Homo sapiens: one gene and its partners. The protein of the gene in region 4 interacts with the protein of the main gene of each other region in a pairwise test. Each region holds a gene or a part of one and is shown on either strand. Other genes may lie near its edges. The genes, in order: NKG7, SEC22A, FAM3C, CLEC2D, ADIPOQ and SYT15B.

The links.
Region 1: the proteins of CLEC2D (region 4) and NKG7 interact in binary tests that used the Homo sapiens proteins (3 or more experiments, as listed by UniProt).
Region 2: the proteins of CLEC2D (region 4) and SEC22A interact in binary tests that used the Homo sapiens proteins (3 or more experiments, as listed by UniProt).
Region 3: the proteins of CLEC2D (region 4) and FAM3C interact in binary tests that used the Homo sapiens proteins (3 or more experiments, as listed by UniProt).
Region 5: the proteins of CLEC2D (region 4) and ADIPOQ interact in binary tests that used the Homo sapiens proteins (3 or more experiments, as listed by UniProt).
Region 6: the proteins of CLEC2D (region 4) and SYT15B interact in a two-hybrid assay, tested with the Homo sapiens proteins (one large-scale study listed by BioGRID).

What each region holds. Positions count from the first base shown.
Region 1 is NC_000019.10:51,370,743-51,375,022, forward strand, and holds NKG7 (protein NKG7), read right to left. Parts: upstream 1,913-4,280; 5' UTR 1,794-1,912; coding exon 1,637-1,793; exon of another isoform or gene 1,566-1,636; coding exon 1,419-1,565; coding exon of another isoform or gene 1,333-1,418; coding exon 1,198-1,332; intron 1,094-1,197; coding exon 1,035-1,093; 3' UTR 878-1,034; downstream 1-877.
Region 2 is NC_000003.12:123,207,493-123,212,439, reverse strand, and holds part of SEC22A (vesicle-trafficking protein SEC22a), read right to left. Parts: intron 3,620-4,947; exon of another isoform or gene 3,503-3,619; intron 3,242-3,502; 5' UTR 3,223-3,241; coding exon 3,041-3,222; intron 1-3,040. UniProt on the Homo sapiens protein: May be involved in vesicle transport between the ER and the Golgi complex.
Region 3 is NC_000007.14:121,357,338-121,362,284, reverse strand, and holds part of FAM3C (protein FAM3C precursor), read left to right. Parts: intron 1-2,157; coding exon 2,158-2,242; intron 2,243-4,947. UniProt on the Homo sapiens protein: May be involved in retinal laminar formation. Promotes epithelial to mesenchymal transition.
Region 4 is NC_000012.12:9,667,552-9,672,970, reverse strand, and holds the start of CLEC2D (C-type lectin domain family 2 member D), read right to left. Parts: upstream 3,259-5,419; 5' UTR 3,237-3,258; coding exon 3,176-3,236; intron 1-3,175. UniProt on the Homo sapiens protein: Receptor for KLRB1 that protects target cells against natural killer cell-mediated lysis. Inhibits osteoclast formation. Inhibits bone resorption. Modulates the release of interferon-gamma. Binds high molecular weight sulfated glycosaminoglycans.
Region 5 is NC_000003.12:186,840,793-186,846,482, forward strand, and holds the start of ADIPOQ (adiponectin precursor), read left to right. Parts: upstream 1-1,917; 5' UTR 1,918-1,957; intron 1,958-4,764; exon of another isoform or gene 4,765-4,815; intron 4,816-5,690. UniProt on the Homo sapiens protein: Important adipokine involved in the control of fat metabolism and insulin sensitivity, with direct anti-diabetic, anti-atherogenic and anti-inflammatory activities.
Region 6 is NC_000010.11:47,760,396-47,766,070, forward strand, and holds the start of SYT15B (synaptotagmin-15), read right to left. Parts: upstream 3,198-5,675; 5' UTR 2,610-3,197; coding exon of another isoform or gene 2,246-2,609; coding exon 2,239-2,245; intron 1,251-2,238; coding exon 1,046-1,250; intron 535-1,045; coding exon 392-534; intron 1-391.

The DNA of each region.
Region 1 (4,280 bases), on a different chromosome or scaffold from region 4:
CAGGCCTCATCATGTCCCACCTATTGCATTGCCAAGTTCCTCCCTCACCTTCTGGCCTCCCCTCCATGTCTACAGGGGGGTCTTTCTGGCACCCAGAGCTGACACTGTCCCTCCCCTGCCCACAATTTTTCTCCCAACTCCCCATCATGTTCAAGAGAAAGTCCAGCATGACATTAGAGGCCACAGCCCCCACCTGCCTCTCCCTCTTCATTTTCCATCCCCCGCCCCCCACATTCTATATCCTGACCCTAAATTACCGATCTTCATCCCCACAAGACTCCTGACTTTTCTGCACGTTCATCTTTGGGCCCCTCTGCCTGGATATTACCTTTCCCTGGCCCTTAAGAAGCTCCTAAATGTTCTCTCTCCAGAAAAGTCGTCTCCATCCCTCCACAATATGGTCAGTCTTTTTCCGGCATTCTCCCTGCACTGGGACTGCTGTCTGGCCTGTATTAACTGCTTCTGGTCTGTAAGTGCCTCCTCCCCACCACCCCACAGACTGAGCCCCTGCTGGGCAGGGCCTGGGTCTGACCCGTGCCAGTGTCCCCAGCATGGGGAAATGTGCAAAGAGAACTGACTGAGTGCAAGGAAGGGCTGAGTTCTGGCAAGGGGGACAAAATCAGAGAGGGAGAGAGAAGGAAAGAGAGCCAGCTAAAGGGAGAAAGACACAGGGAGGAAGAAAAGTGCTGGAGAAGGGGAGACATAGACACGGGTTGGAGCCTGTGTCCACACGGGCCGGGCACTCGTACTGGGCAGGAGCGCCCTGCAGGCTGGTCGGCCTGGTGGGCCCTCACCTTCCCTTGGTGCCCAGCTCCTACCATGGAGCTGGCAGACAGTTGGCTTATGTCTTGGCAGAATTAATCTCAAAATAACCAGATTCCAGCCAAATTTTGTTGAATGAATGAAGAAACAAGAGGAGGGGCTGGGGAAGGGCTGGAAGGGCGGGCAGATGTGGGACCAGACTTTCCCGAGGCTCCAGATGAGGCCTTTGGAATACAACGCTCAAAACTCATCTTGCCGCTCTTGCCTTCTGCTCACAAGGTTTCATAGCCAGGACGGGGACCGCCACAGTGAGCACCCAGGCTCAGGGCACCTGGGGAGCCAGAAAGAGTTTAAGCACTTGCCCCTGCCCTCTGTCCTCAGGGACCCCAACTGGACCCTCCCAAAGCTCCCCAGGGCAGTGGGCAGGATAGTCACCTGTACAGAGCAAGAGGATAGCTGAGACCCAGCCCAGGTAGAAGGACCAGGAGAAGAAGGTCTGGATCTGGGGGTGTGGAGGCTGGTCCCACCGCTCGCTGGTGTACACCGCCATGGCCACCACCATGGAGATGGCTGGGGACAAGGACAAGAGAGATGGCTCAGCTCCTCGGCAGGAATTCGCTGGCTCGCGATGCCCCAGTCCAGTCCAGAGTCCTTACCTGCAGCAAAGGCTGCGGTGGTTGAGACAAGCGGGCCGTGGCCTGGGGGGAACAGTGAGGGGAAGCAGGACAGGACCAGGAAGCTCACGGACACCAGGGCCCACAGAACAGCCATAATGCTGAAGGTCTGCGTCACGTGGATGTAGCCTGATCGGGAGAAGACCACTGAGCACCCATCCCCGCTGGCAACCCCTCTGTAGGACACCCATTCCCCTTACCTGATATGATGTCCCCATGCCCTGTTGGCCAGAGGCCCGAGTGAGCTGAGTGGGTGGGACCCACAGCCTCAAACCAGAAATCGGTGCTCAAAGCAATCAGGCAGAACATCAGGCCCAGGGAGCCCCCCAGCAGGGCCAGGGACCGGCAGAGCTCCATGGGGATAAGCTCAGGGCTTCTGGGTCCTGGAGGAGGAAGAGGCTGCTGATCAGACTCTTGAATCTCAGAGAGAAGGAGGCTGTGCACCCAGACTCCTGGGTCCTTAGAGCCCAAGAAAGAGAGAACAGCAAGCAGTTGGGGCAGTGAGGGGTCCTGCGCTTTGTCACATGAGGCTGGTTTGGTTTCACACAGTTCCCGGTAGCTTTTCACATACCCTCCCTTCCTGGATTGCACAGGCAACGTCCTCCCTCCCCTCCCTGGGGTCCAGTTCCCCGCTTAGTGTGTGATGGGGGAGGGCACTGAGGGTGTCAGATCATCAGTGGTTTGGGCGGTGGTTTAGTACTTGCCTCTGTCACAGATTCTACAACTCCCACCCATGGAACCTTCAACACCAAGTCGGGGCTTCCTGGAAGAGGTGAGAGAGAGAGGCTTGGGGGCCCTGAGGTGGGAGGAAGCCAATCAGGCTAGGGTGTACATTAAGGGGGAGGGCAGATGTGGCTGGAGGGGACAGCTGGGGATGTGTCATGCTTTCCTGTGGGTTATGCAGTCTTCCATTCTGGGAGAGGAAGTCCCCAAGTCTAGGGTCTCTACTGAAGGAGGGGACTTGGGAGTTAGAACTCCTGGGGCTTAAGGAGGAAGGAGCTGGGGGCCTGAACTCCAGGTCCTGAGGGAGGAAGAGGCGGGCAGGAGCTCAGAATCCTGGGCCCCAGTTTGGAGCATATGCCAAGGGCAGGCAAACAGCAGAGAATCACAATTCTGAAAGGTTTGCAGAGAGTCAGACATACCCACATCCTCATCTGATTAATGAGTTCAGTGGCATCCCTGCTTGGGTGGGGGCTCCAGCCTGGTGGCCTTTATCACCAGGATCGGGGGGCCTAGGGGGTGTTGGGGGACATAAGGATTTTGGTTTAGGGTTCTCCAGCCCCCCAAACGCTAGCCTCTTCCATCCACACCATCAGGTCCTGGCAACACCTCATCTACGAGCAGGTATAAGGTGACGGTACCACAGCCCAGGTAGAAGGCCCAGGAAAACTTGACCTCTGTGAAACGGTGATATGGTTAGGGTTTGTGTCCCTACCCAAATCGCACCTTGAATTGTGTCCCCATAATCCTCACGTGTCTAGGTAGAGACCAGGTGGAGGTAATTGAATCATGGGGCCGGCTTCCCCCATGCTGTTCTTGTGATAGTGAGTGAGTTTTCACAAGATATGGTGTTTTTTTAAGGGGCTCTTCCTGCCTTCGCTTGGCCTTCTTCCTGCCACTCTGTGAAGACAGTGGCTTGCTTCCCCTTCACCTTCCACCATGATTGTAAGTTTCCTGAGGCCTCCCCAGCCATGCTGAACTGTGAATCAAATAAACCTCTTTCCTTTATAAATTACCCAGTCTCAGGCATTTGTTGTTGTTGTTGTTGTTGTTTGAGACAGAGTCTCACTCTTGTCACTCAGGCTGGAGGGCAGTGGCAAAATCTCGGCTCACTGCAATCTCCACCTCCCAGGTTCAAGCAGTTCTCCTGCTTCAGCCTCCCAAGTAGCTGGGATTACAGGTGCCCGCCACCACACCCAGCTAATTTTTGTATTTTTAGTAGATTTCAGGTTTAGTAGATTTTCGGGTTTTCACCATGTTGGACAGGCTGGTCTTTAACTCCTGACCTCAGGTGATCTGCCCACCTTGGCCTCCCAAAGTGTTGGGATTACAGGTGTGAGCCACCACGCCCGGCCAGGCAGTTATTTATAGCAGTGTGAGAATAGACTAATACATAGGGAGTAGTCTGGAAGAGGACCTCTGTCTTGGAGATGAACTGGTCCAGCAGTCCCAGGACAGCTGGCAAATGTGGAGAATGGGAAATGACCTGGAAGACTGGTTCCTCTCCTTTATTGGAGAGACTCAGATCGGCAGCCCCCATCCTTCACTCAGATCTGCACCACTCTGAGAACACATTTATGAGCACAGGCTCCCAGAGGTGGCAGAGGCCATGAGCAGGCCAGGTCTCCGGAAAACCTGCCATGGTGTGCAGTGAGTAGCAGGTCAGAGCACACAGCCTATCTATCTGTGACCCTGACCCCCTCCCAAACCCAAAGCCATCCTTAACCCCAAACCCAACTCCATCCCCAAACTCAGTATCAAGCCCAGTTCCAACCACAAATTCAACCCATCCCTATCCCCAAAGTTAACCCTATTCCCATTCCTGAACACAACTCCATACCCAATCCCATCCCTATTCGTAATCTCCACCCTAGCTCCAACCCCCATCCTCAAATAGAACTCCATTCTCAGTCCCAACTACACACTCAACCCCATCCCCCGATTCGCCCCCATCCCCAAACCTAACGTCATTCTAATTCCCAAACTCAACATCATCCTTATTCCCAGTTCCAACCCTTATACCCTTCCCACCCTCAAATCTAACTCCATTCTCATTCTGAAACCCCACCCTATCTCCAAACCAAACCCCTCTCCATTATTAACCCCAGCCCCTACTCCAAACCC
Region 2 (4,947 bases), on a different chromosome or scaffold from region 4:
ACAAATAAAACTCAGAATAATGACCCAGGACACTAACAGAGCCTATTAAATAAAATATTGAAATATTTCAAGTTTTTCCTCTAAAAAAATAGAAGTAGGTTGAGACATCATTTTACATATATTTTAATCACCATAATCACAATATTTTCTAATTAAACCCTCAGAAACCCCAATTAAATATAACATCTTACCATTATCCAGGTGATCTAAGAAATTGTGGACATTCTCCAAGGTTCTAACCTGGGCCCTCTCTCTAAACCCAGTAGGCACTTCTCCCCTCACAATATCAACCACATCTACGTGAATGATTCCAAAATCTCTATCCCATCTCCACTGAACTACCTTGTCAAAACCTCAATTTATTTATTTTATTTATATATATTTTTTGAGACAGGGTCTTGCTCTGTCACCCTGGAATGCAGGGGTGAGATCATGGCTCACTGCAGCCTCAACCTCCTAGGCTCAAGCGATCCTCCCACGTATGTCGCCACAGTAGCTGGGACTATGTCACGCCTGGCTAATTTTTTAGTTTTTTGTAGAGACAGGGTCTCCCCATGTTGCCCATGCTGATCTCAAACTCCTGGGCTCAAGTGATCTGCCTGCCTCGGCCTCTCAAAGTGCTGAGATTACAGGTGTGAGCCACTGTGCTTGGCCTAAAACCTCAAGTTAAATAATTAAAGTGGGCCAGGTGCAGTGGCTCATGTCTGTAATCCCAGTACTTTGGGAGGCCAAGCAGGAGGATCACTTGAGCCCAGGTGTTTGAGGTCAACCTAGGCAACATGGTGAGACCTCATCCCTACTAAAAATAAAAAAATTAGCTGGGTGTGGTGGTGTGCACCTGTAGTCCCAGCTACTCAAGAGGCTGAAGTGGGAGGATCACTTGAGTCCAAGAGGTTGAGGCTCAGTGAGCTGTCATCATGCCACTGCATTCCAGCCTAGGTAACAGAGCAAGCCCCAGTGTCTTAAAAAAATGATCAAAATGGAGCTTCATTATCTTTCTCTTCTGCCTCACACCTCATAAACAGTCTGTTCCAAAGATCTCATTTCTGGCAATGACACCAACATTCTGTCCAATTCCAAGGCTTCAGTCATCTTTGCCCCTTCCTTCTTTTCATCTCTGGTATTCCATCCTATCCAGCTTGGTCACTTCTTTTGAAGTGATCCAACTTCAAAGTGATCCCCAATCAAACTATTTCTCATTATCATTCTAGTTCTTTTGGTGTTCTAATTTTCATTTGCACGTTTATTTTCTTACTTCAGGCCCTAATAAGTTGGCCTCTCTGCCTTATCTCTCTCCTCTTGGACTGTCCACTCACCCTAAGTTCCACTGTCTCAGGATTGTTTTTATCAAGTCACTTCCCTTGAACCTGCAGCACAGCTTCCTATAACATATTACATCAAAGTCACGTCCTTCAATCTGAACTTTCAGGGCGATCCAGGATCTGGCCCCACAATGATTATCACGCATGTCTCACAACTATCCATAAATCACCATCCACTGACCCAGGATAAGCATGTTAATACACCTACCATGCTAAGTCACATTCTTTGCTTATTCTGCCTCTCCTCCGTACACCTGGAATGCCCTCCTCCCTGCCTTAGCCAACTCTTATTAATTCTTCAGGACATGGCTCATGTCTCATCTCAACAACGAAGCCCTCTGCTTATTATATCCTATATGGACTGTGTTTTTACCTTATTTCCTTCTGTATGCATAATCAATATCCAGCTTGATATCAGACATTAATTGTTCTCTAATTGTTTCACGTCTAAGCTTTCCAAGGTGGTCTCATCCATTCCCATGGTTTTAATCACAAACTGTAAGCTGACTTCCAAATCTAAATGTCTATACTTGTCCTCTTCACTAAGCTTCAGACTCATATATCCAGCTGCTTACCTAGCAGTGCCCCTTGGATGTCTAATGGGCATCTCAGATTTAACATGTCCAAACAGAACTCTTACTTTTTACCAAGGAGACGCACTTATCCTCTCCTTTCTTGCTCATTTCAGCTACATTATTCATCCAGTTCCTCAGGCCAAAAAACTACAGGTGATTATTCTTCTTTTACCTTCACATCCTATTTCAATCCAGTAGGAAGATTTGCTGGTATTAATCCCAAAATATAGCCCCAATCTAACTACTTCTATTCATTACTACCCTAGCTCGTTACAATCAGCACCTCCACCTGAACTTCTCTGAGTCTTCCATCTGACCTCTCTGCTTCCACTTCCTCCTTTATTCTTCACAGTGCAGGCAGAATGATCTACTCTAAGCCAAATGAAATCATGTAACTCTATAGCTTAAAACTACCCAATGGCTTCCTACTGCATTAGACTAAACAGACTAATAGACTCCAAACTCACTACATAACTTGCCCCATTCCTACCTTTCTGGCCTCACTTTCTGCAACTCTATTAATTGTCCATAATTCTTCAGGATCACTGGTTTTCTTTCTGTCTCTTGGCATGTAAAAAAGGGCTTCTCCACTGGCTGCTACCTCTGCCTTGCTCTTCATCCACAGCATCCTTCATATAATTACCTCCTCTCTCATCTTTTAGGTCTCTGCTCAAATGTCACCCTCTCAGAGAGTGTCTTGACCACAATAAATAGTCACTCTCTATCCCATTGCCCAGTTTTACTTGATTTGTATGTGACTCAGTGATAAGTGCTACCCCCTCCCACTAGACGTAAGTTGCTTCAGTTCTTTGAGGGCAGATATCAGGTAAAAAATTTTTATTTCCAATTATAGTTTGCTTACTACAACCCTAGGTATGTAAGAATGCAAATAAATATTTAGTGATCAACTTAAAAGAGGGATATCTATGATCTGCACAACTATAAAATTTCCCAGAGCCAGATACAAAGAAACTACAAAAAGGCTGCTGCTGACATGATGACTATTTAGTATAAGTTCAGAACAATATGATGCTCGACTTGAACAGGTTTTCCTAATCACTCCTTTCTATTGCAACCACTTAAACTTCATTAAAATGACAACTACTGGGCAAATGAGTCAAATGAAGCAAACTGAAGTCTTACTTAATGTTATAATGTCCAGTTTTCAGTGTACATCTATCAGGAAGTTGAGCAAGTTTCCTCGAAAGCATTTTAAAATACTTTCTGCACTCCTGCATTCCTGTGCTTTGTTCATAATCAGTAGAAGCAGAAAGTGGCAGTCCATCTCTGACACGAATGACTGAGGCAGATAAAATCATAGACATTTCAACCAACAGAGAAGACCTAAAACAAAATGAACAATTTGGGTTACATAAAAATTAAAGCCAAACTTGATAAGCATATGTAAAAATGTTCAACTTACTAGTAATATAAGAATAGTAATTAAAATGGCCAGGTGTGGTGGCTCACACCTGTAATCCCAGCACTTTGGGTGGCTGAGGAGGGTGGATCACAAGATCAGGAGTTTGAGACCAGCCTGGCCAACATGATGAAACCCCTTCTCTACTAAAAATACAAAAATTAGCCAGGCGTGGTGGTGCACACCTGTAATCCCAGCTACTCAGGAGGCCGAGGCAGGAGAATTGCTTGAACCCGGGAGGCAGAGGTTGCAGTGAGCCGAAATCGCGTCACTGAGCTCCAGCCTGGGCGACAGAGTGAGACTCCGTCTCAGGAGGAAAAAAAAAACAAAAAACTAATTAAAACAACATACTATGCTTCACTTAACATATAGCTTTTGTTTTTTGTTTTTTGTTTTTTTTTTTGAGACAGCATCTTGCTCTGTCACCCAGGCTGGAGTGCAGTGGCGCCATCTTGGCTGACTGCAACATCCCCCATCCAGGGTTCAAGCAATTCTCATGCCTCAGCCTGGGTTCCCATGCCACAGCATAGGATGTGGCTGGGACTATAGGCGCCTGCCACAGTGCTGGGATTACAGGCATGAGCCACCACACCCAGCCACATTAGCTTTTTAAAAAATAATACTTCTGTCTGGCATTCTCATAAGTACAGATGGAAGTAAAAACTGGTACAAACAGTTCTCAAAATGATTTGGCAATTTCAACAAGAGTCTGAAGGCATACCTTTTAACCTCAATAAATTTAAATATATACCTGTCTTGAGAAAAATAATCAGAAATCCAGGCAAAATTTTAAACAGAAAGACATTCTTCCACTCAAATAACTGAAAGCAATCTAAATATCCTATAAAATGGTGATGGTTAAGTAAATTATAGTATATTCATATAACAGAATATAATGCAGCAACTAAAAGTTATGTTTGTGGAGAAAGTTTAATAATGTGGTAAAATGCTTACATGTTAAGGAGAAAAAAGTAGGATAAAAATTGCAAATGTTGTTTTACACAAACATAAGGATAAAGAGACGAAGATAAAGAGAAGGAAAAAGGGATTGAAAAACGGATGCAGAAAAAGATGCCAAATTAAGAATATGCTCACCTCTAAGAAATGGTATTATTGGTTATTATTATTTTATAATTTCCTAAATGTTCTCAATATTCACAGTAGACATATACTACTTTTATAATCAGAAAAAAATTATTTAAAATAAATCCTAAAGCTAAAGGAATATTGGTTTTAATGTTGTTCTCAATCTTTTTACCAGAAAGTAAATCTTAATGGCCTATTTTATTGGATTCTCTTCTTGCTTTACAAAAACAGATGAAAGGACTTCACAGGCCTGAGTCTGAAGGAACTCAGGTCAACAGTCACTCAACCTTTCATAAAATACACAGTGGCTCTCAAACTTTAGCTTGCATAAGAAGTTGAAAGTTTAGTTAAAAATGCAGATTTCTGAGCTCTGCCCTCAAAATTCTGAACCACTGACTGTGGGATAGGGCTTGACAATTTGCTTATTGTCTAAGGCCCATACTTTTTAAAACATTAAATTAAAACATGTTCACTATCTAAGATTAAGTGATAACTCTTCTCTGTCAGGCCATCAAAGCACAATGTCACTAAAGGCTTCCTCACT
Region 3 (4,947 bases), on a different chromosome or scaffold from region 4:
TGGAAGTCCCACAAGGAGTGGGAAGAAGTTACCAGCACGCAGAGGCAAGGGACTGGCACCCCAAAGAAGAACGCTGCCCGGAAGAATGGGTTTTTTTCCTCCAGTTTGAAGGGAGGCCAACACTGGTTTATCTTTTGATTCTTTAATTTGGGAGATTGATCAGTATGAGGATCTCCCCTGCACCTCCCCATTCCATTTATATATTCCCTAGAAGCCAACAGCTATTAGGCTTCCTGAAATTCATGTTAAGAGTTCTCAGATAATTTAGCTTTTCCAACATATCTTCAGCTTGTAATAAGATGGTATGTAGCCGGACGTGGTGGCTCACGCCTGTAATCCCAGCACTTCGGGAGGCCGAGGCAGGCAGATCACGACGTCAGGAGATGGAGACCATCCTGGCTAACACAGCGAAACCCCGTCTCTACTAAAAATACAAAAATTAGCCGGGCATGGTGGCATGCACCTTTAGTTCCAGCTACTCCTTGGGAGGCCGAAGCAGGAGAATCCCTTGAACCGGGGAGGCAGAAGTTGCGGTGAGCCGAGATCTTGCCACTGCACTCCAGCCTGGGCGACAGAGCCAGACTCCGTCTCAAAAAAACAAAAGATGCCGTGTATTATTTTGTTATTAAATAATGTTAGGACAACATTGCATAGCTGTCAAAGCTGTATAAACTTAAAATGGGACCATCAATTTTAGATTCTAAAGGCATAAATTGGTCCTGCCAAAATTTATTGATAGAAAGAGTCTTACAAAGCTGTTGTTGAAATCAGTCATGTGACCAGGAGCTCTGGTATTCCTTACTTCTCTTGTCACAGGTAGATTAATTACCGCTAGCAGCATTCTTCTAGTTAGGAAATTGTTGCAGTTTATTGCCACTTTTGCATTTAAATGGAAGTAGTTTGTTAGCTGCCTTGTTATATCTTTTTGAATTGAAAATGCTATTATTATGAAATATAATCAGTTATCGAAAATCTTTGGCATCTTTGCTGTGGAAAGAAACTGAGTACATTTGAAGTAACCCAGTTTTGGAGTAGAATTAGACTTCAGAGCTATAAGGAACCCAGACATTGTAAAGAGTTCAAGATGTCAAGTGGTTTTTAGAATCTGACCTATGTATCTGGCATCAACAGTTTATAGTCATTGAAGTGGTTTATTTTGAAGTCCTTGTGGATTTTGATTTGGTAGATCAAATGAGTAATGACTGTAATATTTGCTACAATTAGTTTGGCTTTTAGTGATCACCTAACATATTCCTTCTCCCAGTTTATAGCAAATGATATACCTAAAATAGCCTTTAAATCTGTGTGTATATGTATTTTTAGATTTTCTAAAAATTACAGATATCTTTGAGAATCGGAGAAAAGCTGTGTATCCTCTTTCTAGTAAAGTACCCATACAAACATTGTTATGCTTTTTTTCGTTTCGTTTTTGTTTTTTTGTTTTGTTTTTGAGACAGGGTCTTGCTGTGTCAACCAGGCTAGAGTGCAGTGGTGTGATCTCAGCTCACCGCAACCTCCACCTCCTGGCCTCAAAGCAGTTCTCCTGCCTCAACTTCCTGAGTAGCTAGGACTACAGGCATGTGCCACCAAGCTCGGCTAATTTTTAAATTTTTTTGTTGAGATGAGGTCTCACTATATTGCCCAGGCTGGTTTCAAGCTCCTGGGCTCAAGCCATCCCCCAGCCCTGACCTCCCAAGGTGCTGGGATTACAGATGTGAGTCACTGTGCTCAGCCCATACAATTTTACATACACTTAAGGAGTCCACACACCTCCCATGCCTCCTTAAGCTTATGCATGGACCCCAGAATAAGGTTTTCAGGATCCCAATTATTCAAATCTGAGAGATCTCTGAATTTCTTACTTCGTAAGTCATGCTTTACTTTGCTATGATTTTTTTCACTTAGCCCCAGGAATATCAATACGAAAGACACAGGATAAATCAGGAATGGGAAATTGTAAGTTGATAGTGGGATTATGTTAAGGGACAAATTTAACAGTTTTTAAACTCTTTATGAGATTTGTCTGTCTTTTGGATTACTTTACATTGGAAATTATTGCTTTACAGATACTTCATGTTTTATAATACTACTTTCAGAGATTATCGTGATGCTTATTCAGTCATTTTTTAAAACCCTAAACCCTTTCTTTTTCTTCAGATGTGGCACCATTTATTGAGTTTCTGAAGGCCATACAAGATGGAACAATAGTTTTAATGGGAACATACGATGATGGAGCAACCAAGTATGTAAACTTTACAGAACTTTTTGGAACTATAATTTGTAATTATAAAAGCAATACATTTTCATTAAAAAAAAATCTGTAACATAGAGCAAAGTAATCAAACTACCAGGTAAACACAACTAACAATTTTTGTTTTTACTTTGCCTCCTTCCTGGTTTTATATGTAAATGTTTATCACACATATATTGTCATGAAATTAGAATCACATCATATGTAACATTTTTTATACTTTTATGTTTTGTTTTTTAACATTCTGAAATTGTTTTTCCTAGCATTAATATTCTTCAATAGCATTTTTATGGTTCATCAGCAGTTATGGGCTCACCTTTAAAGTTTCCCTATTATTATGTCATTAGGGTAAATTTCAAGAAATGGAGTTAATTGTCAAAGATACAGGTGTGCTATATTTTAAATAATTTTAATATATAGTAGTTTTATAACTTTTTCTTAAAATAGTATATGTTGTAAAAATTTGGAAAATTATAGAAAAGCGCAAAGAGACCAAGTTCCAGTCCATCTCACTACCCAGTGTAAACATTGATGATATTTTAGTTTCTATTCCAGATGACTTAAGACACATTTTTTGGCATTAAATATTTAGAATGCTAGTATTTATAGCATATCTCTTCACTTACGTGGTGAATATTTCCCCTTATTATTAAATATTCTTTATAAAAAATTGTTTATGCCTGCCTAGTCTGGTTTTTAAAATGTCATGATTTATAACCTGTTTAATGGGTTGCCTATTGCTGGACCCAGACTAGTTCCAATTTGCATACTTAGCACAATAGACTATCTTAGAAATGTTTGAACAGTCCATGTCTATGTCTTTAAGATAGACTTCTTTTTTTTAAAGTGGAAATGATTAATTAAAGGATGTGCATGTTTTTAAAAATGGATTTTAAAAATTTTTTTACCAATTTTATATTTTTCTCAGAAGTTCCATGGCACCAATTGTTAATTTTTTTAAGTTTCAATTTTAAGAGTTTGAAAAGGTATCTTATTTTAATATGCCTTTATTATTGAGATTGGATTTTTTTCACAAGTGGTTTTTTTTTCTTTTGCCTTTTTATGTAAATTGTCTTTTGACCATTCGAGTTGGCCTATCTTGACTTGTAAGACCCCTTCACGTTTTAAGGATATTAACCATTTCTAATGTAAAAAGAAATGTATTTATTGTACATTATTTGCTTTTAATTTTGTTAGTGTAGGGTGCTTTTTGAATTTTAGAATTTTAGACTAATGCCTATATAGTCTATGTATTTTTCTATCACTCTCCTTGTATACTTGAGAAGTATTTTTCCACCTCCAGGTTAGATATTTAGTAGATTTTCTCTTCCAGTGATTTCACTGTTGTCATGTATTTTTAAAAACCCATTTGTAATTTCCCCATGACACACAATGCCTATGTTCTTATGTAGATTTGGCTTTATCTCTGGAATTTCTGTTCTGTTCCATTCACTTGACCTGTTTATCTCTGTTCCAAAAAGACACTATTTCAATTATTTTAAAATTGTTTTATAAAAGTAATTGTACTTCATGCCTCTCTGGTTGAGATTAAATCCCCTTTAATGTTCTTCTTTCTAGAAAAAAATAATTTTTTCTCTGACTTTTCTTCAGATGACTTATCAAGGATAAAAAACATCCTTTATAGATTTTAATTGACAGAGCTTTAATACTACAAGATTTATAGATTTTATAGATTTTAATTGACAGAGCCTTAATACTACAAGATTTATACAGAAATTTGTATTTTTATGTATTGATTTTTATAAATGTATTATTTTATAGCTACATTATCACAGATTTACATGAAAACAGTGATACTTTATAAATGGTTGTAAGCTGAAGTAATTTCATTGACATTGTGCGTTTTATCTGGTTCAACTAAGAATATATTAAATCCATAAATTGAAGGTTAACATAAAACTCGCCTATTCAAGCATTTTCATCTACCTAAATAGAATGAAACAGGATGTAATTAGGCTCTCATCAAAAAACAGGTAACTTGCTATTTGCTTTTGCTGAGAGAATAGGCTATTACGTGTAAAATTTGAAGTTTTAACATTAAAAAGAAAAGGCCCCACTTTTCTGACTTGACAAACATGACCTCCGTTTTTCACCAGATTATTTTGTTATACCTGATGGGAATCAAAATTGCTCCCCTTAACCTGCTAATATGCTAATAATAAATTATAGCCACAACTAAGAACTAGGGGAGGAATGATGTTTACTCTTCAACTGCTATTTTTTGGTGCCCATTAAATGCACCAAAAGCAGCTTTGGAAGAGAGTTCAACCTCTAGGGCAAAAGGAAAAATCTAAACTTTAATTTCTTTACGTTTGGTCACTTGGTCAATATATGATTCATCTGTGAATTTAAATGAATTGAGTTGTATTAGTTTGGGGCACACGAATTTATATTTCAAATATTTCCTTTTCCTAAATACCAGTAAAAGAAATTGTAAGCATCATATCTTTTATACTGAAATGGACAACATCCTTAAGAAAGGCAATCTACATCTAATATATATATAACCCTTTTATCTTGGCAGGTGTCTAATTGTGGCACATTTGCAGTGATTTACCAGTTGTGTTATATACCCTCTCTTATATATGAATAGAAATTCTGCTTACTGCTGCTGATGTATTATGGCTTTTCCTTATTTAAGGCCATTGAATTTTACCTCGTTTTCTTCCACTTAT
Region 4 (5,419 bases):
AAAGATTACAGGAGCTGTTAACCAGAATAACCAGTTCAGAGAGGAACATAAATGACCTGATGGAGCTGAAAAACACAGCACGAGAACATCATGTTGCAAACACAAGTATCAATAGCTGAATTGACCAAGCAGAAGAGAAAATATCAGAGCTTGAAGACTCTCTTGCTGAAATAAGGCAGACAGACAAGATTAGAGAAAAAAGAATGAAAAGAAATGAACAAAACTTCCAAGAACTATGGGACTATGTAAAAAGACCGAACCTACCACTGACTGGAGTACCTGAAAGAGACAGGGAGGATGGAACCAAGTTGGAAAACACACTTCAGGATATAATCCAGGAGAACTTCCCCAACCTAGCAAGACAGGCCAATATTCAAATTCAGGAAATCCAGAGAACCCCAATAAGATACTTCATGAGTAGATCAACCCCAAGACACATACTCCAAGGTCGAAATGGAAGAAAAAATATTAAGGGCAGCCAGGGAGAAAGGTCAGGTCACTGACAAAGGGAAGTCCATCAGATTATGAATTTTGAGTGCTACAATATGCCAATGTAGGTTATTAATTGTAATAAATGTACTGCTGGTGAAGAATGTTGATGTTAGAGACTGCTATGGTTTGAATGTGTCTCCAAAGTTCATGTGTTAGATACTTAATCCCCAATGCAATAGTGTTGAGAGGCAGGTCCTTTAAGAGGTAATCAGGTCATAATGTCCTTATAATGGGAGTGGGTTTACTATCACGAAAGTGGATTTGTTATAAAAGCAAGTTTGGTGCCTCTTGCTCTCTCTCTTTCTTATGCATGTGCTCTCTTGCCCTTCCAAATTTTGCCATGGGATGATGGAGCAAGATGTGTTTCTCAGTCTTGAACTTTCCAGCCTCCAGAACTATGAGCCAATAGATTTTGTTCATTATAAATTACCCAGTCTTGGGTATTCTGTAATAGCAGCACAAAACAGACTAAGACAGAGTCTATATATGTGTGGCAACAAGGAGAAAATGAAAAAAAAAACTACCTTTCTCACAATTTTGCTGTGATCCCAAAATGGCTCTAAAAATATGGTCTTTAAACAAAACAAAAAAGAGCAAAAGGAAAAAGGATATACTAGCAGCAGATCTTACAAGAATATCCAAATTTAAAGAGCCATCAAACCAGTGGTGAATTTAAATTTCCCTCCTCTAGTATCACTGCCCCGAACTTAATACAGCCAGAAACATGGAATTGAGCCTCTGTCAGCATAAAGAGAGGGCTCCAGGAGAAGCACTAGAGGTATGGTCTGAGGAACAGAAAAGCAAACTCCTATCTCAAATAGAGTGTGAAAATACCACGTTTATTTTTTCTCCCCCTCTTGTCTACATTCTCATGTGCCTCAAACCTCAGGCAATCTGATGATGGTAGGGGAAACTACAGCAACATGCAATAGCCAAAACCTTGAGAAAGGTTAATCCTCGGCCGGGCGCGGTGGCTCACGCCTGTAATCCCAGCAGTTTGGGAGGCCGAGGCGGGCGGATCACAAAGTCAGGAGATCGAGACCATCCTGGCTAACACGGTGAAACCCCGTCTCTACTAAAAATACAAAAAAGTAGCCGGGCGTGGTGGCGGGCGCCTGTAGTCCCAGCTACTCAGGAGGCTGAGGCAGAATGGCGTGAACCCAGGAGGCGGGGCTTGCAGTGAGCCGAGATCGCGCCACTGCACTCCAGCCTGGGGGACAGAGTGAGACTCCACCTCAAAAAAAGAAAAGAAATCTAAAGTCAATCCTTTCCATTCAGTTGAGCTGTAGCTCCATGAGAGTGGGGCCAAACCTCTTGCTTTTTTTTTCTTCTTTCTCACTGTCCGTCTGCCACATGAGCTTAAAGATGCAGCTATAATTGCAGAAGTATATGGTTCATCAGAATAAAAGGAGGCCCGCATTTCTAGCTGGAGGATGGAAAGGAGAAGCCCCTGGGAACCTGAAAGTACGGGTCAGATGGTGAAGAGGAAGAAACTTTAGAAAGAGACCCATGAACATTATTCATAAACTCCTGGATTCACCTGCCCCTCAACTTATGCATGCCTAGATATGGTTCTAATTGGCACACTAAAGATGCTAAGACCTGAACTAATGAGTAGAGCATTGCACAGTTCCCAATTTCACCCCTGGTTGATGCACATGTCTGAATAGCACTACAAAGGCTTTCAGAATGGAACTGACATTGGAACCAGATCCCACAGATTGTCTTCATCTCACCAGGGTGATTGCTTGCTAAAACAATAGTATCAATATACTCCAAAATTTAAATAAGATCCAGTCTAACTAAATATTTGTTCAAAATGTTCAAATTACAATCCAAAATTACACAGTATATGAAGAACCACGAAAATGTCAACTTCCATGGGGAAAGAAAACACAAGCCAAGGAGGACATGACAGAGATGTTGGAACTATCCGACAAACAGTTTAAAGCATTTGGTATAAAATGCTCAAAATACCCAATGAATGAAGAAATAAATGAAGTCATTTAACAACATTTAGAGTTCATCTTTTTCTGCCTCTGAATTACCTTTTCTCCAAATTGATTACCTTTTAAGTTGGGAGGAGAAAACTCCAAACTTTTAAGTCCTAAGTTATAAAACCTTGATATTCCCTAACTGTGGCAAAAGTCATTTTTTTCACTTACTAAAGCATCATATAAAGCTATATATATATATATTTCCAGTGCATCCAATGTAACATAATTCCATTAGAATGCCCTACTAAGTTTCTACTCAACCTTTGTTACTTTTTTGATTTGTAAATGTCCTTTACATACTATTTTCTACCTTTTCTCTCTTAAGAGCTTCCATGATAGGTTTTCTACCTATGTAATAATGATGGTATCTTGTATCTGAGTAACACTTTAGAGTTTGTATAGATTTTTTTTTAGTGAAATTAACTGTTATTTTCAATCCTAAACTTAACCTTATCTCATTGTCTTACATCTTTCTCTCATTGTTCCCTCTCCTTAGTTGTTAGAACTGGGAATATAAATATATGCATGTTTTACACAAATTATAAGCCAATTTATGGACTCCCACATTCCATCTCTTATCCTTGAAAACTTTTTACTAGATCAGCACCTTTCCTGTGTGAGCCCATCACTACCACTACCTTCCCATTCCAGTCCTCACACTTACTCTGTAGAGCCCAGCTTCTTACCTGGGTTTGCAGGCAATTCAGATGGTGTAATGTCTTTCTCCACATTGTTACTGTCATGCATTTTGCCTCCAGTTTCTATGAGTGATCTAAACCACAGTCTCTACGTTTTCAACCCCAAGAATGATTCAAAACAAAACAAAAAAAAAGCCCAACGACTAAAACGTGTAAGTGTGTAACCGCCCCAGTAACTCAAAATGTCAAGCCTTTAAGTTAAATATAGCTAGAGGAACAAATGAAGCATAAATTGTTTCAAAAATCAGCTCATCACAACAGAATAAACTGGTGTTTGTAAGAATTTTAAAAAGTTGAAGCTACTTCTCTAACAGTATTTTGGTTACGAAAGAAACTAATGTTTGATAACTTAAAATTTCTTTGACTATTAAAAATTATAATTGTATTTTGTGCGGTACAAAGCAATATTATGATAGAAAATAAGAATTTATTGAAAGGAAGGAGTTGGCTCTCAGAGGAAATGAATGTTAGGTAAGTAAAGACAACAGCAATTTTAATCTCAAATTAAAATTCATTCCCAAGAGTTTACGCTCATTCAAAAAATATCTTGTTTTCAATTTCTTCAAGATATTTTGGGAATTTGCTGCTATGGCTGCTACAACAACTTTTCAAAAATGGGCTTGAACGGTGTGCAGCTTCTGTGCTCCCTCTGGCATGATCCAGGAGCACAGAGGCTCTTTAGCAGCAAGAGCTTCTTGTCAGATGTGTTGATTTCTTGTATATAAATGCCAGTAAGGGCACCTTTTACTAAAATATAATTTATAGTAATGTGCACAAATCATAAGCATACAACTAAACACATTCATTAAAAATATAACATGTAACAAGTGCCTAGATGAAGTATATCTTAAAACCACGTAAAACAATACCAACACGCTATGTGCCCTACTCATGTCCTGCAACGCTCATTACCCCAAATACAATCTCTATCTTAACTCTGACAACATATTTTCCCTGCTTTTGAATTCTATACAGTAGCCCCCCTTACCTGTAAGAAATAAGTTCCAGATTGGACAGCTATTGCCTTTATCAAATAGAAATGAAGTTGCATTAGGACTGAGTTCCAGTTTCTGTAAGATTTTATATATCTTTTTCTTTACTATTTCATCATTTCTAGTTTGTCCTAGGACCTATGATAAAGCCTTCTAGTAATTCCATCTGAGAACCTGCTTTTTATCAAAGCTGCTTCTCTTTCTTGGAAGTTGAATTTGGTTTTGTCTCCTGAACAACATGTGATTGCCAAAAGTTCAAGTCTGTTTTTCACATAGTTCTTCCTAACCTCCTTTCCTGTGAAATTTAATAATTTGAAAATTGCTTGAGAGAAAAATTTTTCTCATTTCTTTGGCCCTCTCTCCTCTCTGGGGGTTTTGGTCCTTCAAGTGCTTTAGGAAGAGATTTTTCTCTCCCCCAAAAAAATGCCTGGTATCCACAGCCCTCTCCCCAGAATCTCAGCATCTGACCCACTGCCAAGATGCCCCTAAGAGAAGGGTGGCTCCTGGAATGCTGACTCACTTCTCTGTGGCCCCTTTCCAGAATCTTCGTTCTGCCTCCAGTTGCCTTGAACACTCTCTAATATCTTAATGAAATCCTTTTTCTTCAATTCTAACTCTTCTAGTTGTTCTCAGCATGAGTTTGATGTCTCTCCAGTTATATTATCATACACAGAAGTGGATATGAACTGTCAGGCTTATCCCTTTTATATCCTTTTATAATTTCATTGTTAGCTTAAAGGGGACAAAAGGTAAACCCTGATAAATTGAGATTTCCACACTTATCTTGGAATTTCCACACTAATCATCTTGGAATTTCCACACTAATCTTGGACCTTCCAGTGAAACTACTATTACTTTTACTGTTACTAGCCTGGCATGACAACATGCCAGGTTATTACTGCTTACTATGCTCCATACACATTAATATGAGATTTAAATATGTGTTCTTATTTAATTGGCATAACTAACTAATGAGGCTGATATTACCTTTATTTTTCAGATGATTTTGGGTGAGGGACTAACTAATATGTCTAAGTTCACAGTAAGCTATAGAACCCATGACTGACAGATCTGATATGAAAACTACTTTAAAGGTCAAATATCAAATGACATGGTATTTGTGAGTTAGTCACATCATTTATTCATATCAATCTCTTGGTTTCTACGTTGCTGTAAGTTTCTCCTTATGTGGAAACTAAACTGAAAGTAAGTTCATGAAGTCCTAAAGATGTACATAATC
Region 5 (5,690 bases), on a different chromosome or scaffold from region 4:
GCCTACTTTGTGCCAGGTTCTATTCTAGGAACTAAGGGATACAACTTTGAATAGGCAAAATCTCTGCTCTCCTGAAGTTTACTTTTTTTTTTTTTTTTGAGACAGAGTTTCACTCTTGTCACCCAGGCTAGAGCGCAATGGTGCTCTTGGCTCACTGCAACCTCCACCTCCTGGGTTCAAGTGATTCTCTTGTCTCAGCCTCCCAAGTAGCTGGGACTACAGGTATGTGCCACCACGCCCGGCTATTTCTGCATTTTTAGTAGAGATGGGGTTTCACCATGTTGGCCAGACTGGTCTCAAACTCCTGATCTCAGGTGATATGCCTGTCTTGGCCTTCCAAAGTACTGGGATTACAGGCCTGAGCCACTGCACCTGACCTGAAGTTTATGTTCTATTAAATAGCAACAGACAGTAACATAAACCAAAAATAAATAGGAAAACACCATAACAAAAATCAAACAGTGATATAATTGAGAGTTGCTTCTATTTCTTTTTGTTGTCTTCTTGGTTCAATCAGCCTGCTAAACTATATGGAACCTCATTTTCATGGGCCACTTATTTAAGCCGGGGGACCTTGGAAAGTCTCTCATGTCTCTCATCTCAACGGCCTAATGTGACTTCTCTTGAAATATTTGGACATTAGCAGGAAGCTGAGGCTTTACATCAGATCTTTACTTTAATGGTGGACTTGACTTTACTGGTAGATTTTTAGGCTCTGTGTGGACTGTGGAGATGATATCTGGGGGGCAGGCAGACACTTGCCCTGCCTCTGTCTGAGAAAATTCTGTTTTGGATGTCTTGTTGAAGTTGGTGCTGGCATCCTAAGCCCTTGCTGGGGTCGTAATTTAATTCATCAGAATGTGTGGCTTGCAAGAACCGGCTCAGATCCTGCCCTTCAAAAACAAAACATGAGCGTGCCAAGAAAGTCCAAGGTGTTGAATGTTGCCACTTCAAGCCTAAACTTTCTAGGAACACCTAAGTGGGTGGCAGCTTCCAGTTCTCCAGGCTGCTTCTAGGCCAGAGCTGGGTTCCACAAGAGACAGAATAGGCATATATATGCTTAAGGAACTGGAAAAACAGGCTCTCTCTCTCTCACAAACACACACACACACATACCAAGGTAGCTGTCAAAATGTTATCCGAAATTTTGGAACCAAAAAATCTTGAAAGATGGTATTCCAATATCACATTTTATGTAAGTTTTCTATTATATTAGATTCAAATTACGATTCGAGGCCACAAGCTTTAAGAATTCAGGGCCTTTTTAACTTGCCAAGCCCCACACCACTCCAGGAACTTCCCCACACCCCAGTTCTCAGAATTCATGTGCAAGGTCTTTCCTAAATCCAGGGTCCAGGTCAGAGAGTGGAGGATGTGCTCTATTTCTTACCTGATTGCAGACCCCTCTGACAGTGCTCCCTTCTGAAGCACTCACTGTCTGAACGTACACAGTCTCAGACTTAATCATGCACAGTGAGCAAGACTGTGGTGTGATAATTGGCGTCCCTGACTTATTAGGGCAAATCTATGGGAGGGGGAGACCTCCTGGACCACTGAGCAATTAATTCATTTACATTAGGAAGTTTCTCCGTCAGATGCAGGAAAAAAATCTTGTTTTCCTGCTGTGGTTTTGACTTTTGCCCCATCTTCTGTTGCTGTTGTAGGAGGCAAAATAAGGGTCAAGGCCTGGAAACACAAGTGCTTTGACTGAAGCTCCACTTGGCTTCCGAAGCCCAAGCTGGGTTGTACCAGGTTCCCTAGGGTGCAGGCTGTGGGCAACTGCCAGGGACATGTGCCTGCCCACCGGCCTCTGGCCCTCACTGAGTTGGCCAATGGGAAATGACAATTGTGAGGTGGGGACTGCCTGCCCCCGTGAGTACCAGGCTGTTGAGGCTGGGCCATCTCCTCCTCACTTCCATTCTGACTGCAGTCTGTGGTTCTGATTCCATACCAGAGGGTAAGAGCAATTCTGTGAAGTTCCAGGCTGGGTGGGGGATGCATGCATAGCCTCTGGCTGGGATCACCCAGGCTCTCCCGTCCGTAGTAGTGTGGGAGTGGATACAGGTGGATACTCTGGTCAGAGCAGCACTGGTGGAGGCAGATATGCACTGGGCTTCTTCCTCCGTTCTCCCACAGCCCCAAGAGAGAAAGGGTTATTTCAGACATTCCTTCTAAGATGCATGGAACCATTCTGAATTTTGCCCAGTTCGCTCTGTAGCAGGATACCTATTGAGAAAAAGTTAGGGTCAGTAAGGTGGAAGGGTCTGTCCACAGATGAAGTCCAATTCGATTAAGGGGGATAAGGGAATACATTGCCTCTTAGCTTGACCAGGTAGGGCAAAGGAAGAAGCATATATGAAGGCAGCTTCAGAAAAGTCAAGCTGAGCACTGACTTCAGACTGGAATTAGGAATCCAGCTCTGCCACTTTATTCTACTCAGCAAATATTTACTGAGCAAATTCTATGGGCTAGACAGTGGATTGGGTTCACAAGATACAATGAGTGTGACATGGTTGTTGTCTATGGATTTGGGGATATATGTAGGTATAGGGATATCTTACAAGGTAATCAAGAGGTTCTAATGAGGCCAGCCATGGTGGCTCACACCTGTAATCCCAGCAATTTGGGAGACCGAGGCGGGTGGATCACCTGAGGTCAGGAGTTCCAGACTAGCCTGACCAACATGGTGAAACCCCGCCTCTACCAAAAATACAAAAATTAGTTGGGCGTGATGGCAGGTGCCTGTAATCCCAGCTTCTCGGGAGGCTGAGGCAGGAGAATTGTCTGAACCTGGGAGGCAGAGGTTGCAGTGAGCCGAGATTGTTGCCACTGCATTCCAGCCTGGGTGACAGAGCGAGACTTTGTGTCAAAAAAAAAAAAAAAAGAAAGAAAAGAAAAAGAGGCTCTAATGAGATAAAATGAGAAAAGCCTGGCATATAGTGGCAACTTATGAAAAATTGTAATTAAAAAAAAACATTTTCTGACAGAAGAAACTGGATCTACCTGGTTTTTCTGAAGCCTAATCCTGCTCGCCCCAGTGAGTGCTGTTTCTGAGGCATCCTGGTTGTTTTGAGCTGTGGATGCTGAAGGTTAGAGTGGGAGGGATTTTAGAGGTTAGGTCTGCCCCTCTTGTGTTAGAGGACATGGATCCCTGGTCTGGAGAGGTTCTGGTTTTTGGATCAAGCCTCACAAGGGGTGGCACCAACTCACTCCTAGGAACTCCGCTAGAAGGAAGGCCAGCTCTGCCTAATTCGGTTGGGGAGATGGGGGTCCCTTTATGCTAGCAGAATATGTCCGAAGGAGCATGATGGTGTCAGCTTTGTTCATGAAGGCCAGTGGTACACAGGGAGCCCGGCAGCTTCCTCAGCAGTCCCTGCTGCCACTCTTCCTTAAGTCTTGAGGAGTCTTTTTTTGGCACAATCTCAGCTCACTGCAACCTCCGCCTCCCAGGTTCAAGCGATTCTCCTGCCTCAGTCTCCCAAGTAGCTGAGACTACAGGCATGCGCCACCACGCCCAGCTAATTTTTATATTTTTAGTAGAGATGGGGTTCACCATATTGGCCAGGATGGTCTCGATCTCTTGACCTCATATTCCACCTGCCTCGGCCTCCCAAAGTGCTGGTATTACAGGTGTGAGCCACTGCGCCTGGCCGAGGAGTCTTAAGCTGAGATCACAGCATTGCACTCCAGCCTGGGCAAAAAAAGCAAAACTCCATCTCAAAAAAAAAAAAAAAAAAATAGACACAAGACTGGCTCCTTGTCTTTTTTGGGGACAGGGTCTCACTCTATCACCCAGGCTGGAGTGCAGTGGTGCAATCACAGCTCACTGCAGCCTCGATTTCCCAGGCTCAAGTGACCCTCCCATCTTAGCCTCCTGAGTAGCTGGGACTACAGGTGTGTGCAACCATGCCTGGCTAATTTTTAAAAATTTTTTGTAGAGATGAGGTCTCACTATATTGGCTGGGGGGCCTCAAACTCCTGGGCTCAGCAGTCCTCCCACCTCAGCCTCCCAAAAGGCTGGGATTATATGCTTGCTCTTTTTAAGGTGGCTGTAGGGACAAACTTTCCACCTACTCCTTGTCAAGCCAGTGGACCGGTGGTCCCAGACATACGGCTAAAGTCAAGAGGTGATGTCTTTTGGAGAGATACTTTCAATCAGGAATTTCAATCAGAAATTCAATCATGTGGAGAGAGACTTATCCTAAAAATGTGGTGGTGCGTGGGATGCTCTGTTTTATTAGTTCCTTGACAGTATGTATGTGTGTGAGTGTGTGTGTGCGCGCGCGCACACTCATTTGGATGGGTGTGTATGTGTGGGGGGGGGTGGTGCGTACGTATGTGGATGTGTGGATGTGGTGTGTGGGTGTGCGCGTGCATAGGTGGAGGTGTGTGTATGGGTGCGGGTATGTGTGTGTGTTGGGCATGGAGATATTGACAGCTCTCCCAGGGCTGAGTGAAGGCTTTCGGGCAAAGCTCCTGGGAGCTAGGCAAAGCTGAGTTGATTCCTGGTTATGCCATTTATTATTGGGTTGCACCGTGTGAAACTGCCAATATTCTACACTTTGACTTTTATTTATTTTTATTTTTATTTTTTTTGAGACAGAGTTTCACACTTGTCACCTAGGCTGGAGTGCAGTGGCGCGATCTCAGCTCACTGCAACCTCTGCCTCATGGATTCAAGTGATTCTCCTGCCTCAGCCTCCCAAGTAGCTGGAATTACAGGTGCCCGCTACCACGCCTGACTAATTTTTGTATTTTTGGTAGAGACGGGATTTCACCATGTTGTCCAGGCTGGTCTGAAACTCCTGACATCAGGTAATCCACCCACCTCAGCCTCCCAAAGTGCTGGGATTACAGGCATGAGCCACTGCGCCCGGCCCATTTTGACTTTTAAAAATGGGAGTTTGATATAATTCAATCCAGTGGTTGAATTAGCTAGCATCGTTCCCTCTCCAAGTCTCAGGTTCTCCTACACGTTAGAGTCAAAAGCAGGGCTATGGGAAGATTAAGTAAAATAAATTTTGAAAATGCCTTATGAAAATTACACTCCAAAGAACTCGCGCCAGTGTCAGTGTTCTCATGTTCCTCATCTCACATGATCACATTTCGCGGATTAGGAAGCTGAGTCTGAGAAGCTCCGTGTAGTGCTTTTTCGGAGGCACCGTGATGTGATGGAAGGCTCACTCGTTAGGAAGTCAGAACAGAGTCTCTGAGGGATCATCTCCTTAATCTGTCAGTTTCCTCATCTCTGAAGTTGGGCTCATTTCCTTCCTTCATGGAGTTATTGTAAAGATGAAGATAAATAACGTGTAAAATCTAGCATGGGAACTGGCTTCTATAAGGTTCTAATAAGTGCATTCCTACTCCTTCCCCTCAGCCTTCCCATTTGTAAAAGCAAGGCAGGGGTGAGGTGATTTCTGGGGCTCCTTTTGGCTCTGACATTTGAGGATTTTGTATACTTTTTTTTTTTTGAGACAGAGTCTTGCTCTGTCACCCAGGTTGGAGTGCAGCTCAATGCAAATTCCGCCTCCCAGGCTCAAGCAATTCTTATGTCTCAGCCTCCTGAGTACCTGGGATTACAGGCAGGCACCACCACCCCCAGCTAATTTTTTTGTATTTTCAGTAGAGACGGGGTTTTGCCATATTGGCCAGGCTGGTCTTGAACTCCTGACTTCATGTGACCCACCCAT
Region 6 (5,675 bases), on a different chromosome or scaffold from region 4:
GTGTTTGCAGCCCCTACCATTCTGTCCTCTTGGTCAACCAACCCATCATCCTAGAGTGGGACCCAGCACAAGTTCTGTACATGGCGTGCCTGGGTTCCAATTCCAATCTGTTGCTTACAGCCTCAGTTAAGACTATGTAAAATGGGGTGATAATTCCTCCCCCTCAGAGTCATGGTGAGGTCTCACTCCAAATCAGCACCCAAGGCCATATCTCACCCTCATGGGGTGCAGCAAGCACTTCATAAATGAAAGCACCCAGAAAGAGTGGTCCCTGGGTGGTCCCTGGCATCCCTGGCTGGTTCAGGTTGTGTTCCGGAGCCAAGCTGGTGAAAGCAGATGGGGCCACCCGAGCAGACCCTGACCTCTGGGCAGCCCTGGCAAGGACACTCACCAAGGCCGCCGCTGGAGGTGTGAGGCAGCAGCTCTGATGCCGGGCAGGGGTCCCATGGGGCATCGGCCCACTCTCCACTGTGCAGGGGCACCCAATCTCGGCCTTGAAGGGTTGGGGGCACCACGAATGGCACAGCTGGTGGCCTGTCCAGAGTCAGGGAGACAACATGTAGGTGGCAAGTGAATGGTGTGGTCTCAGAGCGCTCAGCCAGGACGGTTGAGCACCAGGGGCTGGAGGAAGAAAAGCCATCGGGAGCCAGGAGGAGGCCAGGGCACCATTTTCTGGGCCCATACCAGGCAACACACACACACACACGCACACACACACACACACACACACACAGCAGTGGGATTTGGAGAAGGAACACAGCACCTGACAGTGTCAGCCAGTCTGGGTTTGGATTCCTGTTCTGCCACTTACTAATTGTGTTCTCTGGACCTGTTGCTTATGTGCACTGAGCCTCAGATTCCTCACCTGGAACATGGGTTTCATAACACCTGCCTAATAGCTGATGTGAGGTTTCTGGGGTTTCTTTGTGATAGCTCCCAGCACCGAAGCAGCATAGAAGAGGCACCCCCATAAACAGAACTTTCCTTTTCGACCCCACCCTGAGGGAAATTCCAGGGGCGCACTTGGCCCCACATCCTGCCTCACCTGCTCAGTTGGGTCCTAGCATGCGGCTGGCAGGGCCTGTCCCGCTGCCCACTGGAGGCAGCTGTGGTGGCCATGGCTGGTGTCCCAGGCAGCTCCTCATAGGTGAGGGTGGCACAGAACCTTCTCCACAGACAGCAGCTTGCCCCGATCAACAGCAGCAGCAGCAGCCCCCCGATGGTGCCCCCAATCACCAGGGCCAGCTGCTCTGGGGGCAGAGACCACCAGTACTATGATGCCTGCCTGGGAAGGCCACTCTCCCTCACAGCCCTGGCCTGCTGGGGCAGAACTAGGGCAGCAACCCTGCCTCTGGGTTTGATCTCAGGAGTGATAGGAGCAGGCCTGCTGGGGATGGGTTCCGGGAGGGATGCTGCTGGCTAGGTTCCGCCAGCTCTCAGAGGAGAAGCCGTTTACCCCAGGGTCTGAGAGCCCTGGGCAGAACCTTCTAGTTTTCCTTGGAAAACAGCTGGCCCTGCCCTTGGGATTCTGGCTTAAAGAAGCCATTTCCTTGCGCTTCTGAGTAGAAATCAAACCTGCCCTCACCAGAACCTCCATATCCCCTGGGCTCCTGTTGAGGCCAGGAGGGGAGCTGGGGTGTGGACGCAGTCAGTTAAGGAAAGCCCTGAAAGGTACCTTCCCCCTGGTCTGCAATCAAACCTCTACCCTCTGGGGCCCTGGAACCTGCTGCAAGGCTGGACTCTTCTCTAACACCCGCTCCCTCCCCTAGCCCTCTATCAAGGTGAGCACGCGCTTAGGGGAGTTGGTGCGACGCGGTGGACGAGGTGGGGAGGAAGAGGGGGCAAGGCCCCATTGCTGCTGGCCCTCACACGTCCGCATTTGCGGGACCTAGGAGGCTTCGCCCCGGGGGTGCTCAGACGCTGGGTTCCAACCGCTGGCCACCTGGGGCGGGCCAAAAAGGTGCCTCCCTTAGGGTGACGTGCGGCCGCGGGGCATTCAGGTCTCAGGGATCTGCACTGGGTGGGGTGGTGAGAAGGCCGGACCCCCCACACCTCCTAAGCCGCAACTGACCGCGAAGAGCGGGCCTCAGCGTCTACTCCATCCCAGTGCCCCTCCAAGAGCGCGCCGAGGCCGGGCAGGGCAGGCGCTGCACCCCAGCGGGGGCGGCGGGGCGGAGGCAAGTGCTGGAAGGGTCGCAGAGGGGCCGGGGCTGGGCTGGGGAGGCGAGGCTCGCTTACCCGCCATGGGGCTGCTCCCGCAGGCTGGTCTCGCCGGTCTGGGCGGCTGGGGCTGGGCTGCCAGGCCGTCTCTTAAAGCGCCGCGGGGCGCCGTCGGGCGAGCACAGGGGCGGTCCGTGGTGCTGCTGGTGCCCAGCTGCGGCGCGGGGAGCCGCGCAGTGCACGGCAGGGGCAGGGACCCAGCGCCCCGAGGCCGCAGTCCCGCCCCAGCCAGTCCCTGGCCCAGGCCCAGGCCCGGCGGTGGAGGGGCGCAGAGCCGACCGTGAGCTCCCGGAAACCGCAGGGCTCCAGCCAGGGCGGGTCCCGGGCGCCAGGGGCGCCAGGGGCTCCCTGCGGCTTGGGGCAGGGTGCGGTGAGAGTACCACCCCCATCCCGGAGAGCAGGGCTACAGCCTTCACCGCCGCGTCTGACACAGGGCTCCGCACCCGACCCCTCACACCTGGTGGCCAGGACTGAGCCCCCGCCCTCCCAGATCCTCCTCAAGCCGAGGCCCCTCCAGCCGCAGCTCCGACCCCGGCTCGGGGGAGCCTTCCCGGATCCCGGGGTGGAGTCTCCGCGCGGGTCCCGGGCCCCAGCGCTGCCTGCCTGATGGCCTTGGGCAGGGATGCGGCGCTCGCGCACCCGTTCGCTCTCAGCGGACAAACCGGTCGAGAGCGCAATTCTGGAGCGGGTTCCAGAAGCTCCTGGGTTCCAATTCAGGCTCCTCACTCGCCAGCCCTGCGATTTGGGACAACTTAACGTTCGTATGCTGGGTTCAGTCTTCTCAATTGGGTTAATGTCCGTGAGGGGCTCTCGTAAGGGCGGCTGGCCTGCCGGTAACTTAAGAAGCATGTAAAGAACACTTAGAGCGGAGGAGCGGCGCGGCCCAGCCCCTGTTACGGTGGTTATCGGATGGAGGCCAGCGTCGCCTGGGTCCCCTCTGTACACCCAGCGCCTATTATTATGGTGATTATTAGAACGCAGGGCCCGTGCCCACTAGTCCAGGCTGGCGAACGCGCCTTGCGGGAAAGGCGGGAGTAAGGTCGCTGCGTGTCCTCTCTGGTCACCCCTCGGCGCGCCCTGGTCGCGCCCCTATGGTTCCCCCGCCGAGGCCTCGAGGCGTCTGAGTGGGGAGCGAAAGGAATGTGTGTATCTGTGGTGCAGGGGAGTGTGTGTGTGGGGGGGGGAGGGGGTGGTTGTGGGGGAGTGCGTGTTTTGGGGGGATGGACCTTCTCGTTTTACAGCCTTGAAGGTTATGTCCAGAGTCATAGCCTGGGTCCCACACCCCCGCGTCACCTGTGCCTGTCCTAGGGGCCAGTCAGTGTGCGTGAGGCTCCACCCTGCCTGGGCTTTGGCTCACCTAAGGCGAGGAGGGTGGTGAACTGGGGTGCCCCACTGGGCCGGGTCTGGGAGCCCTCAGGGCCAGGGTGCAGAGGCCGCAGCCACTCCCCTTCTAGGGTCTGGGCGGTGGGGGCATGAGAAGGCGGAGACCCAGGCCACTTCACCCAGTAACTGTCCTCAGCTGTGCGCTTAACTGGCGAGATCTCCGCTCTACTTGGAGACAGTCTGGGGTGTCTGGAGAATCCTCCCCCACTTCTGCTTACCCCAGGTCGCTGTGGGAGCAGGTGTCTCAGGAAATGGGGCCTGGGTCCCACCCAAGGCCTCGGGTCTGAGTTAGATGTCTGTATGTTTGTTGTTGCCCCTGCAACAAAGTACCACAGATTGAGTAGTTTAAGCCACACGCATGTTATCTCACAGTTCGGGGGGTCGGGAATCTAAACTGGGTTGGCAGGGCCTGTGCCTTCTGGAGGCAAGGGAGCTGTTTCCCAGCGTTTCCAGCTCCTAGAGGCTGCTAGCTAGTGGCCCTTTCCTTTGTCTTCAAAGCCGGCAGCACAGCCTTTTCTAACCTCTCCCACTCCAGGTCATTTCACATCAACTCTTTCTGCCTCCCTCTTGTAAGTGTGATACCCTACCTTGTTTTAACCTGAATTGACTGTCCCTTAGCTGAGAGAGCCAGACACACTCCATTTTGGCTCCTTCACTTGCAGCCCCTTACCCACCCCCCTTCCTCAAGGACTTAACTTGTGCAAGCTGACTCCCAGCACATCAAAGAATGCAATTAATGGATAAGATACTGTGGCAAGCTATATCCGCAGTTCCCAGGAATTTGCCCAGTTGATAGTACCCTAAGCCCCCACATTTGTGTCCGGTTGATGGTACCCAAAGCCCCCGCATCTATCGCCTTGTGATGGATTTAAAACCCCTGCACCTGGAACTGTTTGTTTTCCTGTAACCATTTGTCTTTTAACTTTTTGCCTGTTTTGCTTCTGTAAGAGTGCTTCAGCTAGGCTCCTCCTCCCCTTTCTAAACCAAAGTATAAAAGAAAATCTAGCCCTTTCTTCAGGGCCGAGAGAATTTTGAGCACTAGCCATCTCTCGGTTGCCGGCTAATAAAGGACTTCTGAATTCATCTCAGAGTGTGGCGTTTCTCTATAAGAGGCTCATCAGATAATCCAGGATAACCACCACCCCCATCTCAAGATCATTAACTTAATCACACCTGCAAAGCCCCTTTTGCTATGTAGTCACGGGGTTGGGGATGAGGACTTGATATCTCTAGGACCATTGTGTGGACCATGTTGTCCATGCAGTACCCTGGGAGGGGTGGCTTACATTTCCCCTTCCTCTGTCTAGAGTTCAGTGTGCCTCAACACTGGACTCAGGCAGCTAGCAAGGCTCAGGGGACCCCTACATGGAACCCGTCAGCTATCTTGACCCCTTCCCCCAGCTGCCATGCACCCCCACCTGACCACCCCAGTGGGGCATGGCATCCACACCAGCTGCCTCCATGATTGCGCCCGAGCTGTACTCAGGCTGTTCTGGGGGTGGAGTTGGGTAGTGGGATGTTTTTTGAAAAGGGAATCCCTTCTGGCACTTCCTGAGTGCCAGGCCCAGAGCTGCCATCTCTCGACCCCCATGCTGTGCTTTTCCAAAGTCCCCATCTTTCTCTGTGTCACCAAGTCCTGACAGCTGTTCCTCCTCTGTCCATCTCTATCATGGCAAAAAACCTTGCCCAGCCCTCCATCACCTCTCATCTGGAGCTCTGCATGGGCCTCCTCTCAGCTCTTCAGATTCCATGCTGCACCCACTCCCCTTCCCAGCTGTTGTCTTCCAGGCTCCCCTCCCATTCTCATCCCCCCCACCACCCATCTCTCTGCAGTGCTTGTGCCCAGACTGATGCAGCTACTTCCACGGCTCTGCGTATGCACTGGGCTCTCCCACCATGCTGCTCTCTCCCTGTCTGAAATACTCAATGCCCCTCCCACCCTCCTTCTCCACTGCTCATGTTTCAAGATGAACCCCCAGCATCTTGCCTTCTGTGAAACCCTTCATCATCCCCTCGTCCTCATGGTCCTTGCAGCTACCATGCCGAATATGGGACTCTGTGCCTGAGACTGC